Linked DNA regions of Homo sapiens. The protein of the gene in region 1 purifies or fractionates together with the protein of each later gene. This does not show direct contact. Each region holds a gene or a part of one and is shown in the gene's direction. Other genes may lie near its edges.

What was found.
Region 2: the proteins of UBTD2 (region 1) and SMR3B purify together in Homo sapiens (affinity purification with mass spectrometry; 3 studies listed by BioGRID and IntAct, with this or other methods). This does not show direct contact.

The regions. Positions count from the first base shown.
Region 1 is NC_000005.10:172,280,408-172,288,723, reverse strand, and holds the start of UBTD2 (ubiquitin domain-containing protein 2), read left to right. Parts: upstream 1-4,959; 5' UTR 4,960-5,058; coding exon 5,059-5,128; exon of another isoform or gene 5,129-5,132; intron 5,133-8,316.
Region 2 is NC_000004.12:70,378,293-70,386,890, forward strand, and holds the start of SMR3B (submaxillary gland androgen-regulated protein 3B precursor), read left to right. Parts: upstream 1-4,838; 5' UTR 4,839-4,920; intron 4,921-6,204; 5' UTR 6,205-6,218; coding exon 6,219-6,272; intron 6,273-8,598.

The DNA.
Region 1 (8,316 bases):
CAATTCCATTCCTAGGTATAAATCCAAGACAATTAAAAACATATGGCTACACAAAAGCTTGTACAGGAATGTTCATAGCAGCTTTATTCCAATACCCAAAAAATGGAAACAATCCAAATAACCACCAACTGATGAAAGGATAAACAAAATGTGGTACATCCATACAATGGAATATTGTCCATAAAGAGGAATGAAGTTAGTCTCAGCTACTGGGTATTGTGTGTGTTGGCGGCGGGTGGCGGGTTGGCGGGGGGGAGGCGGGGGGAGGTGGGAGGATTGCTTGAGCCTGGAAGGTTGAGTAACATGGTGAAACCCCATCTCTACTAAAAATACAAAAAATTAGCTGGGCATGGTGGTGCACACCTGTAGTCCCAGCTGCTCGGGAGGCCGAGGTGGGAGAATCACTTCAACTGCGAGGTTGCAGAGAGCTGAGATTGTGCCAGTGCACTCTAGCCTGGGTGACAGAGGGAGACTCCGTCTCAAAAAAAAAAAAAAGAGAAAGGTTTGTGGTCGCCTAGGGCTGGGGTGAGGTAGGGGATAGAATGAAATGGGGAGTGACTGCTAATAGGTACAGGGTTTCTTTTTAGGGTGATAAAAATGTTTTAAAATTCATTGACTATTGATATTTAGTAAATATACTAAAAACCATTGACTTGTACAATGTAAATTGGTGAAGGGGTGGGGGTGGATGGGGAAAAGGGAGATATTGATTCCAGAGTAGAAAGTTTCAGTTAGGTGGAATAGGCATTAGTGACCTACTGCACAGAATGGTGACTATAATAATGCACTGTATACTTCCGAATCGTTAACAGAGTAGATCTTAAATGTTTTCACCACAAAAAAGAGAAGCACGTGGACGGGGCGCAGTGGCTCGGGGCACGGTGGCTCACGCCTGTAATCCCAGCACTTTGGGAGGCGAAGGTGGGCAGATCACGAGGTCAGCAATTTGAGACTAGCCTGGCCAACATGGCGAAACCCCATTTCTACTAAAATTACAAAAATTAGCTGGGCGTGGTGGCAGGCGCCTGTAATCCCAGTAACTTGGGAGGCTGAGGCAGGAGAATCGCTTGAACCCAGGAGGCAGAGGTGGCAGTGAGCTCAGATTGTGCCACTGCACTCCAGCCTGTGCAACAACAAGACTACGTCTCAAAAAAAAAAAAGACAAATACGTGAGGTGATGGATTTGTTAATTAGCCTAGTCATTCCACATTGTAAACATGTATCTAAACATCACACTGTGACCTCATAATACAGTTATTTGTCAATTAAAAATAAACTGGTGAAATACATGGTATATGAATATCTTAATAAAGATACTATAAAACAGTAGAAAAGCACATGTGCACACACACACACACACACACAAAGAAGGAATTGTTTTGATAGAAAGTGCTATGCAGTCAGTTTTTTTTTTTTGGAGTCAGTCTTGCTCTGTGGCCCAGGCTAAAGTGCAGTGGTGCTATCTCGGCTCACTGCAACCTCTGCCTCCCAGGTTCAAGTGATTCTCCTGCCTCAGCCTTCCGAGTAGCTGGGATTACAGGCACACGCCACCATGCCCAGCTAATTTTTGAATTTTTAGTAGAAACGGGGTTTCACCACGTTGGTCAACCTGGTCTCAAACTCCTGACCACAGGCGGTCTGCCCGCCTCAGCCTCCCAAAGTGTTGGGATTATAGGCCGAAGCCACTGTGCCTGCCTGCAGTAAATTTAGATAGATGATGCTAGACATGAAATAAAGAGTTGATGAAAAGCCCCACAGAGTTTGGAGCATTATTTTTGGCCCAATTTTACAGGTGAGGAAACTGAACTCCACATAAACTTTTTTTTTTTTTTTTTTTTAGATGGAGTCTCACTCTATCGCCCAGGTTGGAGTGCAGTGGCAAGATCTCAGCTCACTACAACCTCCGCCCTCCGGGTTCAAGCTATTCTTCTGCCTCAAACTCCCAAGTAGCTGGGACTACAGGTGCGAGCCACCACGCCTGGCTAATTTTTTTTTTTTTTTTTTTTTTTTTGAGATGGAGTCTCGCTCTGTTGCCCAGGCTGGAGTGCAGTGGCGCGATCTCTGCTCACTACAAGCTCCGCCTTCCGGGTTCACGCCATTCTCCTGCCTCAGCCTCCTGAGTAGCTGGGACTACAGGCGCCTGCCACCACGCCCGGCTAATTTTTTGTATTTTTAGTAGAGACGGGGTTTCACCATGTTAGCCAGGATGGTCTCGATCTCCTGACCTTGTGATCCGCCTGCCTCAGCCTCCCAAAATGCTGGGATTACAGGCATGAGGCACCACGCCCAGCCTAATTTTTGTATTTTTAATAGAGATGGGATTTCACCATATTGGCCAGGCTGGCCTCCAACTCCTGACCTCGTGATCCGCCCGCCTCGGCCTCCCAGAGTGCTAGGATTACAGGCATGAACCACCGTGCCCGGCCAAACTTTCTTTTTTCTTTTTTTGAGACAGGGTCTCGCTCTGTCACCCACACTGGAGTGCAGTGGCGCGATCACAGCTTACTGTAGCCTCCACCTCTCTGGATTCAGGTAATTCTCCCACCTCAGCCCCCTGAGTAGCTGGGACTACAGGCGCTCACCACCACGCCCCGCTAATTTTTAAAATTTTTTCGTAGAGACAGGGTCTCCCTATGTTGCTCAGGCTGGTCTGAAACAGCTGGGCTCAAGTGAGCTTCCCACCTCAGCCTCCCAAGGTGCTGGGATCACAGGCGTGAGCCACCATGTCTGGCAGAAACTTCAGACCATATAGCTAGTACACGATGAAAGCCAGATTCCAATCCAGGAAGTTAATCGCCAAGCTGGGGCCCTGACTGCGACACTACTCTGCCTCCTGGGAAATGTGTCTCTAAGATAAAGGCAGGGTGGAGAACATCTATTGCTGAGAATCTCTCCCCGAGATTGCTCTCTCTTCCTAGTGCCAACTCCTCAGTGCTCATCGGAGAGCCCTCATCATTTGGGTGCCTACCATCTGTTTAATAGACATCGTGGAAGTCTTGGTTTCTGCAATTTCTAGAGTGAAATTCAGGACAAAGCAATCTCTTTGCAAATATTCGGCATGCAGCTTCTCTTCTTCAGGGAAGTGATGAAGTGATGTGTCTGCCAACGTGTATAGTTAGTTGAAAATGATCAGACAGAAGGCTTTGTGACACAGCCCCTGATGTCAGAGCAACCTCTGAAAACTCATAATAACATCGATGGCATAAGCTCTTTTTGGAATGTTCAGGACCACAACTGAGGACAATACTAATTCTTCAGGATGAGTTTAATATAGCAGATTTCTATATCTCACGACATTTCTGTGTTTTAACCTAAGTGTAGGTTTTGCTTGTCTACTGTCTTTTTATCAAATGAATACAGAGATCTAAATCTTTGTATAATAGCTTGATCTATTTCTGTGAGCTAGATTTCCAGATGTGGAATAATCCCGAGTCAAAGGATATGAACATTTTTAAGGCTCTTGATCTGCATTGCCAAATTGCTTTGCAAAAAAGATTGAACCAATTTACACTCCCACCAGCAATGTATGAGAATATATTTAAATGCAAATCCCAAGCTGCAGAGCATCTCTTTCTTAGGTATTTCAACTTAAAAAATTTTTTTTCGTGCTAAGCAAAAGCTGACCCAGGATGTTAAAAAAAGAAAGTCTGATATAAAAATGGAGCAGATAGTTAAAACAGCTTCTTAGGCAGAAATAAGCTTTAGAAAGTCCCAAGCAGGATGATAACAATTTTAAGGCATCATAGCACGAAGCACAATTCTAAAGGGACCATTAACAATTTGGCTGAGATTGGAAAAGTAACCGCCAAGAATGTTGGGCGTGGTCAATGTCCCAAATTCTAGATTCGAAAAGGCAGGGTGTTTCACTCATTTACACTTCACTTTGGCCTAAGGACGATTTAAGATACCCAAAGGCAGGATCTTGATAAGTAGTATTGTTTGAATCATTAATCCCGTGAAAATGAAAGAAACCCACGCCCCCTGAACTAAGGTCAGCGTTTATCTCTTCTTTCCAGGCGTTCCATCAGGACGCCTCGCCTCTAATCTCAGTTTGGTTTGCCACAACCACTGCCTCCACCCCTAATAATGGGGCCCCATGATTTTAGGGAAGACGGGGGTGGGCAGGCAAGAGGAAGCCCAGATTCGGGGTACCAACCCACGGAGCGCCATACAAATTCAAAGGGCGCTGGGACCTCAACGTTCGGCCAGGACACTCTCCCCCGAGCCCCCGTTATTTGGGAAACCGCCCCGTCCCCGCCTGCGAGTCTTCCACGACTACTTCTCGGTTCCCCCGTGCGACCCGCTTCCACCAGCAAGAAGGAGCCGACGGCCGAGGAGCCAGGAACTCGATTTCGCCCCTTCCCACTCCTCTTTTCTCACTTTTGTTCGGCTTTTTCCTGCTTTCCCTCCCTTCTTCCCTCTCCTTTCTTCTTCCCGTCCTCCCTCTCTCCTCCTCCCCTCGCCTCCAGTCCTCCCCCCGCCTGCAGTCCTCCCCCCACCTAGCCCCCTGCGTCCCCTCCCCCGCCTCACCCTCGCCCCGCTCCGCTCGCAGCCCCGCCCGCAGCCAATCAGAGCGCGGCCTCCGGTGGCCCCGCCCTTCTCCGGCGATTCCGGGCGGGCCGGGCCGAGCCCAGGCCGTGGGTGCGGAGGGCGGCGCCGCGGGCCGGGGGCCGATGGGTCCTGGCGGACGCGAGGCGCCGGCGCGGGGCTCGCCTGGACTCGGGTGTGCGGGGCTGTGAGGGGGCGAGGCGGGCGCTGCGGCCCGCCCGGGATGGGCCAGCCCTGGCCTGGCGGGGCTGAGCCGAAGGCGAGGGCGGCGCGCGGGCCAGGCCTGCCGGGCGGGCGGCCCGGGGGTTGAGGTAGAAGTGGGCGCGGAGGAAGGGGCCGAGCCAAGGCGGTGGGTGGAGCGGCGAGGGGGGCGGAGGCTGGGCCGCGGCGGGCGAGCGGAGCGGCGCGCCTGTCCGGAGCTCGGCGGTGGCGCCGGAGGAGGCTGCAGCGGCGGCGGCGGCGGGCCCGGACGAGCGTCCGGAGGTGGCGGACGAGGCGCCGGGGGCCCCCATGGGCGGGTGTGTGGGCGCCCAGCACGACTCCTCGGGCAGCCTCAACGAGAACTCGGAGGGCACCGGAGGTAGGTGAGCGCCAGGGGGCAGCCTCGGCCCCCCATTGTTCCCGGCCAGGCCCGGCCACCTGTCCCGACCCCCGCGGGCCGCGCCGGGCCCCCGCGCCCCTTTGTCATCCCCTCTTCCACGTCATTCCCCGCGCTCCGCTTCCGGCTGTCCTGCCAGCCGCGGGGGTCGCCCCTTCCCGCCCCAGCCCTGAAGAAAAGTCCTCTGAGCGCCGGGGACGTAGCCCTTGGCCTCGCCGACCGCCCCGCTCGGCTCGGGGAAGTCGGACCCGAAGCTGCCCTTCTGGCCACCTCACTCCCTCTCCAGGCCGTTTAATTATTGAGGATCAGGATGGCGGCGCCGGGGTTGCAGAAAAGCGAATTGATGGCGGGGGGAGGGAGCTTGATGCGTTCCCTCCGACGGGCCCCGCCACATCTTTCCGCACCCTTCCTTGTTCTGTGGAGTTGGCTGGTCTCAGCTTTCCTGAGTTTCAGATGACAGCTGCCCCGGTTGGTTCCAGATTGGCCATTTAAACCTGCGAGTTTCTGGAGCTCGGCTGGAGGAGTCTCCAGTGGCCGCAGGCATTGTATTAAGGAGGGGTGGGGAAACGGTCTTCCCGGGTAAAACGTGGCTCCTAGCTAGAGCTTGGGGGTGTTAGGCCGGTGTGCTGTCGGGGTGGGCTAATCACATTCCCATCTGTCTTACGTAGAAGGAAAATATGTAGGATAAAAGTACAAGTGCAGTTGGACCCTGACTTACCCCACCCAGTAAGATCAGTACTTTAAAAGTTTTCTAACACGGGAACGCACTCCTACTTTATAGTAAAAGCGTGCTGAGGATAGGTATTTTAATTCAATCAGTAGTAGTTGTAGTATGGCAGTATAATAATAAAATTAGTTCTATCTTTATTTAAGTGACCTTTGGTTACGTCCATTCTGTAGAATATTTTAGTGATAAACAGCCTTTAGGCAAAGATGACAGCGTTGGTTTGATTTGTGACCTAATGTTAGCTGCCTTAAAATGTGCATGTCTGTAAATTTTTAAATTGTTTGGGTATGGGAGGGTTTACAACTTTTTCGTAGCATACTAACATTTAGACCAGTTGCTTGCCCTGTCACTTAAGCTCTCTTCACAAACCATGTACACCTAAGTTTTTTGGCTAATGGATTTCCTGAATTCCATGATGGTTAGCCATGCCACTTTATTAAAATCTGTGGGTATCCTGTATGACTAAATCCTGGGTAAATAACTTGAGAACTCAGTGGAAGTTGTCTTGAAAAAGTCCATGAAAATGCTACTTTATAGTGTATTTTATGTCGTAGCATTATTACTGGCATATTGAGATCCTCAGTGACAACAAAGCAGGAAGATAAAAAGGGCACGATTTAAAACAGCCTTGGGTTAAGGTGAAATTGAAGGATCAAAATGAATCTTCCTCTAATTGTGTTGATCATTAATGATTCTGAAATATATTAGTATTTGTTATCGCTAGTGTTTAGTTTTAATTAAATTTTTTTCACACTCATTTTAATATTGTCATAAGCATTTTGCTCTTCTCCGTAATGTATGTGGATTAATTTATTTAAGCCTTTTGGTAGTGTGACTTATGACCAGACAGGCATTATTAATATGGGCTTTAAAAAGCGTGAAATCTTAGCTTTGGGTAATTTATTACCGGTGGTATCCAGTTAGATAGCTATAGTATCAGTTTCTTTGAGGACTGAGTTCTCTGGACCGTAAGCTCTGCTGTACATGAAGTTTAGAAAAAGGAACATTAACCACCAAACGTCTTTATTTTCTTTTGGAGAGAGGACATGGGCCCTGATGTAACTGGGGTCAGGGAAGAGGCTCTTGTACTAAAAGGATTATTTCTGGAATTTGATTATGGACGCTTTTATTCTCCATTATTGTCATGATAATTAAGAGTTAATTGTGGTTTAGTGAAATTAACTCAGGTGTGTTGCAGGTTAACATATAAAAAAAATTATTGCTTAATAAGTAGATTGTTGGGAAGGGAAAGACTTTTTCCTAAGGGTGTTGGCACAGATCCCTAGCTTTTCAAACATACTGTGGTAGTGAGTTAGGTTTGGGGGATGTGTGGAGGGCTTGGTTTGGTTTCTCGAGACAGGTTCTTGCTTTATCGCCCAAGCTGGAGTGCAGTGCCAGATCACAGCTCACTGCAGCCTTGACCTCCCAGGTACAAGTGATCCTTCTACCTCAGCCTCCCAAGTAACTGGGACCACGAGGTGCATGCCACCGCACCCGGCTAATTTTTAAAAAATTTTTAGTAGAGGTGGGTTTTGCCGTGTTTTTAATCTGAATGTGTTGGGTTATGAAAGTTGTTTTATCAACATGGAGTCTTCACATGCTTCTTACAACGGATTTAAACTTTCCATGACAGATTTAATTACATTCACCAACCAGGCGGGGTGGCTCATGCCTGTAATCCCAGCACTTTGGGATGATGAGGCGAGAGGATTGCTTGAGCCCCAGGAGTTGGAGACCAGCCCAGGCAACATAGTGAGACTCTGTCTTTAAAAAAATAAACAAAATAATTACATTCACAGTGTTGTGCAAACATCACCATTTTAGAATAGCTTGACCCTTTCTAAATATCAGCCAGCCTTAGTAAGAAAAAGATTTTAAAAAAATCTTTTGACCATTTGAAATACTATACTTTCCTTTTTCCCTCTGAATCCATCTCTTATGTATGCAAGTAATTATGTGTATATCAATAAAACCTTCCTTATTAGGTGTATTCTTTGAAGGAATTTGGGAGATTTTTATAAGAGACTGTAGAATATGGAAGTGGCTTAATTCACATTATAAGCTTTGCATTATCTATTGTTTTGGGATTAATTGTTGTATTTTCCTTTGGCATATACCTTGCCTAGAATTTAGTTCTTGAGCTCCAGCTACTTAGGCTTTTTTCAAATAAAAAAACTTTTATTTTTATATTTTGTTATTGAGATAGTATCTTGCTCTGTCACCCAGGCTGAAGTACTGTGGCATGATCATAGATTACTGCAGCCTTGAACTCTTGGGCTCAGGCAGTCCTCTGGCCTCAGCCACATGAGTAGTTAGGCTGGTTTTTTTTTTTTTTTTTTTTGAGATGGAGTCTTGCTCTGTCGCCCAGGCTGCGGTACAGTGGCACGATCTCTGCTCACTGCAGCCTCTGCCTCCCAGGTTCAAGAGATTCTCCTACCTTAGC
Region 2 (8,598 bases), on another chromosome or scaffold:
CACCATGGAACACTATGCAGTCATAAAAAATGATGAGTTCATGTCCTTTGTAGGGACATGGATGAAGCTGGAAACCATCATTCTCAGCAAACTATCACAAGGACAAAAAACCAAACACTTCATGTTCTCACTCACAGGTGGGAATTGAACAATGAGAACACATAGACACAGGAAGGGGAACATCACACACCGGGGACTGTTGTGGGGTGGGGGAAGGGGGGAGGGATAGTATTAGGAGGTATACCTAATGCTAAATGACAAGTTAATGGGTACAGCACACCAACATGGCACATGTATACATATGTAACAAACCTGCATGTTATGCACATGTACCCTAAAACTTAAAGTATAATAACAATTTAAAAAAAAAAAAGAGCTAATGACAATCCCACCACCCTTTGCTGACTCTCTTTTCGGACTCAGCCCGCCTGCACCCAGGTGAAATAAACAGCCCTGTTGCTCACACAAAGCCTGTTTGTTGGACTCTCTTCACACGGAAGCGCGTGACATTTCTTGTATAATTTTTATACCAAATAAACCAAATTATGTCATTTTTGGACTTTAGGGAATCTGATATCGTAAAAGATTAATTAGGTCAGAAAAAGACATAATTTATAATTTGATTTTGGAATGTTTGTCAAATATCAAAAGTTTAAAACACCTGAAATCACAGTTCATTGTAAAATAAGTCATTCGTTTTACCAAAGTCAATTCTGGAACTGAGGTCTTTTCATTTCCATTTCAGGGAACAATACACTGTTTTACTCCAAAATATAAAGCTGTAATTTAAGGCATTTGTACTAACTTTTAGGTTAGAATATGTGTATCTTTCATTTTTTAAACATTTTTAATCCTTCATTATTTTCAATAGATTTCATTTTTAGAGTCCCTCATCATTTTTAAGTAACAAATTCTTACCAATAGACTATATATAAATTTTAGTAATAACTTTATTATACAAGCCCAACATGATCTTAGTATTAATTCTGCCCCTCTCTGATGTTCTTTCTTCATTTAAAACACTAAGACATTGGCCAGGCACAGTGGCTCATGCCTGTAATCCCAGCACTTTGGGAAGCTGAGGTGGGTGGATAACTGAAGGTCAGGAGTTCGAGCCTGGCCAACATGGTGAAACCCGGTCTCTACTAAAAAAAAAAAATACAAAAATAGGCCAGGCATGGTGGCTCGTGACTGTAATCCCAGCAGCTCAGGAGGCTGAGGCAGGAGAATAGCTTGAACCTTGGAGGCAGATGTTGGAGTGAGCCGAGATCATGCCACTGCACTCCAGCTTGGGTGACAGAATGAGACTTCTTCTCAAAAATAAATAAATAAATAAATAAGACATTAACATCTTCCTATGTCTTGCAGTTATCTTGAATATTCAATGAGAAAATAAATATAGCATGATTTACTATACAATAAATGTATTACACTAATGGTTTAAAATTTTTAAAGTACTTGATGTCATTTACAGAGAAAACATGTGTATGACTAGATTTGTTTTGGTAAAAATAATATTACAGCAAAGAAAATATATTTTTAGAATTAAGATGAATCCAGGAATATTCCCCAAAAAGATTTTGAAAGGGGAACTGAATTTATGTGGTTACATGGTTGAGGTTATCAATCTAGCAAAATTCTGATTAAAGGGCAATTGTATCTTTGTTTACATTCACAGTCTGGGGACATCCCGGTTATACTACAAAGACCAATTTGGCATTTACTATAGAAAAATAGACCTTCTGCTTAAAACTATTGGGAAATTTTCCCATGACTCTCAGTGGAAAGCAAAGCTACTTTTCTCAAGAAATTACCATGATTATATTTTATGGACATCGTAAATGTTTTACCTGATTTCTTTCTTTTTCAACTTTGGCTACTTGGAATCTCAGGGCAAATTTGTTGTCAACTTCCAGAAAGTTTACAGACCTATGTGATGTGGGTTTCTTGAAGCATCCATGCTGCACAAGTTAGAGATATTAACTTTTCTTCAGTCTACAAGTTCTATTGTTAATTACATTTCATCATGCTAGACTTCAATCCAAGAGAACATATTTTCTCTCAGAGCTCAATGGCATTATTGATATCCTACACAACAATATTTCCACAGAAATTTTCAAGGTAATCTGTAAGTTCTAAAGCATGATAAGTATTTCAGGTGGCATTATCCCAGAAACAATATCACTTCCTTCTGGATAATCAAGAAGAAGCACATACTTTTCATAGGTCCAAAGAAACTATGATGATTGCTATATTTCAGTGGAAATGAGTATAATACAACAGGAAATCAGACTTCAAATATGTTGCTGCATGACTGAATTTAATTCTGCTAATCTACCTCTATTAAGAAAATATTTTCCATCTGTCACGTAAATCTCTGCACTAACAATAATTTTTCTCTACTGTCACTTTTTTAATTTCCTGTGGCCAGAGACATTAGCTCTTTTATATATTGTTCTAGTAAGTATTGAGTCAGGATCTTCTAAAGCCATAAGTTAATTAAAGATTAATTTGAGTGACTGTTCCTGTTTCTTAACAGATGTGTGCTTCCATTTATTTGTGTTCCTCAGATTCTTTCTGGTCACAAACCACTCAGAAATTGTCTTTCGGTTTTGCCAGCGTTCATCCTAAATCCCTCAGAGCCAATGATCCATTACAATGTAGATCCCACTTTGACTTCAGACATTTGGCTGGTGAATATGTTGGCATCAAAACAAGAAAGAAGAGATATTCAGCTTTTGACAAACTGAATTATCATCAAAGAAAGAAGTGGAAATTTCTATGTTAATTAGGAATAGAACCATCTTCACTGATGTTGGGGCATGTAATCATTCAGCAACATATTAAGGGCTAAGATTAGCAAACCAGGAGTATATTGTATTACACTTAATTAAGTCATCAGAATTTTTTAAAGGCAGTGAAACTCCAACAAAGTAAATGAAATTAAGAAGAGTCATTCAAAACTAACATCAACTCTGGAAGTGCAGCTTCTTTATTGCTATCCCACCTCACAAAGGATTTTTAAAACACTAAGCACTTAGATATGCTGTAAATTCAGCAACTTGCACTATGTCTTGTACCCAGCAGATATTCAATAAATGTAGGAGGGAGGGAGGGAAGGAAGGAAGGAGGGCAGGAGGGAAGGAGGGAAGGAGAGAGGGGAGGGAGGGGAGGGAGGGGAGGGGAGGGGAGAAAGGAAGGTTGGTTGTAAACTTCATGACCTAAAAATTATAAATATACACATTTTTCAAATGAAGAAATTGAAACACAATGAGATAAAATAGCTTGTCTCATATAACCCAGCAAAGAATTGTTGGTATTTGGCTTTGAAGTAGAATTACCTGACTATTAAGTTCACTTGATTCATCTCTACAGTGTACTGTAACATAAAGTTAGTTAAGTGTATGGTGATTATTAAGATTTGGGGAGCAACATGGAATGCTGGTTAAAAACTCACTCAGGCCCCTGTAGGGAGACTTAGGTCTTCACTCAGTGGGAAGACTTAGGTCAAGCCCCACTTAGCTAGTTAGCATCTATGTCATCTATGTGTACAACAGAGATAACAATAGAACTCATTTTATCCTGCCACGTGGAATATGCTAAAGGTTTAATAAGTAATAGCTGTTATTATTAAATAATAATGTGTCAAAACTACAGATTATAGGATCATCTAGCTTAGGAAAAATTATGCTCAAAGCCTAGATTTATCAAAAAAACAAGGCTGTAATTTTCCATTAGACATCCACTTCAAAGTCAAGATATCCGTATAATTTTGCCATAATCAAAAATTTTGCTTGTCATTATATTTTTATTTAATTAAATGTCTCAAGTTAATAATGGCAAGGACCACATGATTTTTAAAACACAGTTGTTCTCATTTAGTTCTTCACTGGCAAAAGGAACTTCCTAAAAAATGCATATATAAGGTCTTGTAAATAGTCTACTAACTTAAGATAATCACAAAGAAATGAAATATAGTTAAGACTGAGAAACTGCATGAACCTTCTGACTATTATCCCTCTTCCACCACTAGATTTTTCTTTCCTGCTTTTTTGAAACTTAGATCCAAATCTTAATAGCAGCACTCATTTTCATCATCCTTCAGAAACATCTACTCAATGAAGACAACTGTGAAAAACCATACATAGGATAAGATATATACAAACTTTCAAGCACAAAACAATAATACAATTTCATTATTTCAACCAAAAAATAGAAACATGAAACCCACAACATATAGCAAAGTGATCAAAACAGTCAAGTGAAATTTTAGATATTCTTTACATTACTGGCCATGCATCGTACCTGCGTGCATGTGTGTGTGTGTGGTATTTAGCAATATTTATTTAATTAGGCACTTTTAATTTTAATTATCATTTTTGTTCCCCTAGGTTCTCCTGATCATGTTAGAATTCAGTTTAAAAATATTTGTATTTCGCACATATGGAGGCCTTTGAAATAAAATAGAAAATATGATGAGACTAGCAAATAACAAAAGATGGCCCATTAAATCACTTGGAACAGAAAAAACTCGTGCCAGCTTTTCCTTTGAAATAAAGAGGAAATGGTGCACCACAGGCCCCAGATTGTTTTTCTGAGGTGATAGGATATTATGATTTGTTGTATCTGTTTCCTCAGGAAACAGCAAATGTTGAACAGGTCAATGCTTTTCAGGAATGAAAAAAAATCCAGAAAAAGACTGCCAAATTGGCAAGAACAACTTTCCTATCTTTGAAGAGCATCAACTCGGAAGTTATTTTATTTCCGAATAGCCTTTCTCTTATTGCCAACAGAAATCCATTACAATATATAAGAGCTAAGATTTCTTGTCCCTTTTCACCTTTATTTGCCGTCTTTCAACTGGCAAGAGTCATTTTGACCAGCAGATTAATCAACTGTAAGACAGATCCTCACACAAAGGTAGGTACTTGGAAATATAAACTGAATATTTTTACTTTGAATATTGAAATTTTTCTCAAAGATAACATTTTCAACGATAACATTTTATGGGCTTTTCATAGAACATTCATTATCAGCAAAAACATAAGTAGCTTACATGAAATTGTAAGTCATTAAATGCAATAAATTTTGAAAAATTCTGGTTTTTACAGGTCAGAGTAAAACATTCATGTTGGGCATTTGGGCCAATCGGTCCATCCAAGTACACAATTGACTTTTCCTCCTGATGTACCTTAAAGTTCTTGAAACTTCATAAGGATAGAATAGTCTCAGGTGTACTCTAAAAGACAGAATTGCTCTACAGAATATTTTTATTATTGGTTTTTCTTTTGTTTTTCAAACTTAATTTAAGAATGGATATAGGAAAAGTACTAGTTAAAGGAATAGCCACACCCACATATATATAATTGAATATCCAGTGAAATTTTGTCCATAGGATTCTTTCAAGACTTGCATTGCTCAGACCACACACTCAACCTATGTGCAGAGTTGACTAACAGGAAGCCAATTTGCACCATGGTGTATGGAGTTGCTTTCCCAAAAATCAAGCTATCATGTACTTGAAATATATTGTAAAATTTGACCCAATTGAGAGTAGAATACCTGGACATCTCCATGTTCTTGCCTTGGTCTCTGATATATGGATTTTTGGAAGCACTTTGAGACCACTCATCACAGCCTAAATTAATGTAATAGAATGTTGTTAAAACTAGGAAATATATTATGTGACTCTTCTTTTAGACTATATCCAACAGGGTGATTCCTTTTTTTTTTCCTTATTTTTAAGCTCTTCCAAGCAATAAAATTTGTAACATAAGATCTAGTTAAAATGTTAATATCTCAAACCCATCCATAGAAATCTATAATGTATCTACTATTTTTAAAATATCAAAATGTTCAAATGAAAATAAGTATACATTTTAAAGTAGTTACTTCTAAGGGAAAAACCTTAGTCATAAAAGCTTCTATTGCTCAGAGCAATGTATGAACAACTCTTTGGCATTATCCCCAGGATCAGTTTACAAGTCAAAAATAAAAACTACTTCCACTATTTTGAAGTCAAATTTTATAAGCCTACTAATATTGCCCCACAGTAATACTGAATTCAAAATAACATTAGGCAAATTCCCTAAAAATGCTATAGTAGGATATTTGTATTACATTATATCCAAGTGTTGAGACATTTTAAATAGTACTTTTTAATAAAAAACAATCATACTGATCACCTATTGTGCTTACTTTCAGAGGCAACTGAAAGGATGAAATCACTGACTTGGATCTTGGGCCTTTGGGCTCTTGCAGCGTGTTTCACAGTAAGTATCATTAATCACGATCACACTTCTTTATAGTTTCTCATTAACCATTACTTCAGATTTCTTTTTACATTAATGATGTTACCTTTTCTTATATATTAGTAACTATTAATCATCAATGAAACACTGTTTAGGGCTTAAATTTAAATTTAAAATCTAATTTAAATAACCACACATGTCTGATGGCTGCCATACTGGACAGCTCAAGTCTGTGGTATCAGACTGCATTAAACAGATACGTATAAATGTTAAGTTCCCATACTCTAGTCAGTTACACAGTAGGTAAAACTCTATAAAAATAGATAATCAAAATAAAACCGTTTTCCCAGCATGTAGTTTATGGATCATTTACACCAGAGTCACCTAACTCACTTATTAAAAATATAGTAAAGACCTCATCCAAGCTTCAATAAGAGTATCAGATAATGGGACCTGGAAAGATGCATTTTACTAAGGATCTACAAGTATCTTTGCATGCTAAATTTTGGGAGAATGCTAAGCATTTATATATAAACAGCTACTTTGTATACAAAACCAGGTTAAAGACAAATGAGATACTAAATATCATACAAAATTACAAAAATGTTTTTAAAACACACGTATTTCAAAGTAGTAGAATCATACTCGATTTCAAAGTAGTGTTAGATTAATTCCAGTGACAGAAAGAGAATATTAATTCCAGAGTAATTTCCACCAAAGTACTATAAAATCTATATCAAATTGAAAAATATGAAAGCTGTTTTTTTTAGATTATGACTTCCACAAATCAAGCAACATAAATTTACATCATTCTGAAACATGAAACATAAAATAATTCCTTTTTCATCTACTTTGTTTTTTTTTTTTTTTTTTTTTTTGAAACAGACTCTCGCTCTGTCGCCCAGGCTGGAGTACAGTGGCGCGATCTCGGCTCACTGCAAGCTCCGCCTCCCGGGTTCGCGCCATTCTCCTGCCTCAGCCTCCGGTGTAGCTGGGACTACAGGCGCCCGCCACCACGGCCGGCTAATTTTTTTGTATTTTTAGTAGAGACGGGGTTTCACCGTGTTAGCCAGGATGGTCTCGATCTCCTGACCTCGTGATCCGCCAGCCTCGGCCTCCCAAAGTGCTGGGATTACAGGCGTGAGCCACCGTGCCCGGCCTCATCTACTTTCAAAAAGGAACAAAATCAGGAAATTCTAAGGTTACTGAGGTAGTCTGACCTTGGCTAAATTACTGAGAGCATTATATGTTGACATAATTTTTAATAAACCAATAAAATATATTGATATATTTTAAAGGTAATATCTTAATGGCTTGATTATAAAGCTTATTTTCAATATTTTTATTCCCTCAGAATACAAAAGAAAAACATTTATAATTTCAAAGTATCAGGCTTTTATTATATAAATTTTTTTTTATAAGATTAATTTGAAAAAGATAACTTTCTGGGCCAGGCACGGTGGCTCACGCCTGCAATCCCAGAACTTTGGGAGGCTGAGGCAGGTGGTAACTTGAGGTTAGGGGTTCAAGGCCAGCTTGGCCAACATGGTGAAACGCTGTCTCTACCAAAATTACAAAAATTAGCTAGGCATGATGGCATGCACCTGTAATTCCAGCTACTCCAGAGGCTGAGGCAGGAGAATCGCTTGAACCCGGGAGGTGGACATTGCAGCGAGCCAAGATTGTGCCACTGCACTCCAGCCTGGGTGACAGAGTGAGACTCTATCTCAAAAAAAAAAAAAAAGAAAAAAGAAAAAGATAGTTTTCTGATAACATAAGCAGTTTAAATGGAAATCAACCTTTCCCCAACTTAATTATATGAGATTCATGATGATTAATAATTATTGAATGTTGGAAATATGAAGGGTAGCATGTCCTTTACGTGTGTGTGTATATGTACACACACACACACACAAATAAAGCAAGTCTAACTACTATTAGTCCCATTAAAATACAAATAAATTTAGGTTCAAAGTATCCGTGTCTTAGATGGACTGTTCCTAAATAAAGTAATGTAGGAGATTAGTGCCAATTATAGTCCTTCGAGAGCGTAGTGTTTCTTCTTAAAATAGTATTTTCATCATTTTTCTGAGTTCGTTACCTTTAGCCAGTTGCGGAAAGGGAGCTAATCAATGTGATTGGGTATACTTACTATGAAGATTTTTCATTACTTAATATTAAGATCAACATCAGGATATCTTTAGGAGGCGAGGGCACTTTCAGCTAATTTTTTAATTGTTTCAACAATAAAAGTGAATGGAGTATTTTCCCACACTAAGGATTTGTTTTCTTGACAATTAAAAATCAAGTCCTGAACTTCCATACATCCTGACTAGTCTTTGGCTTG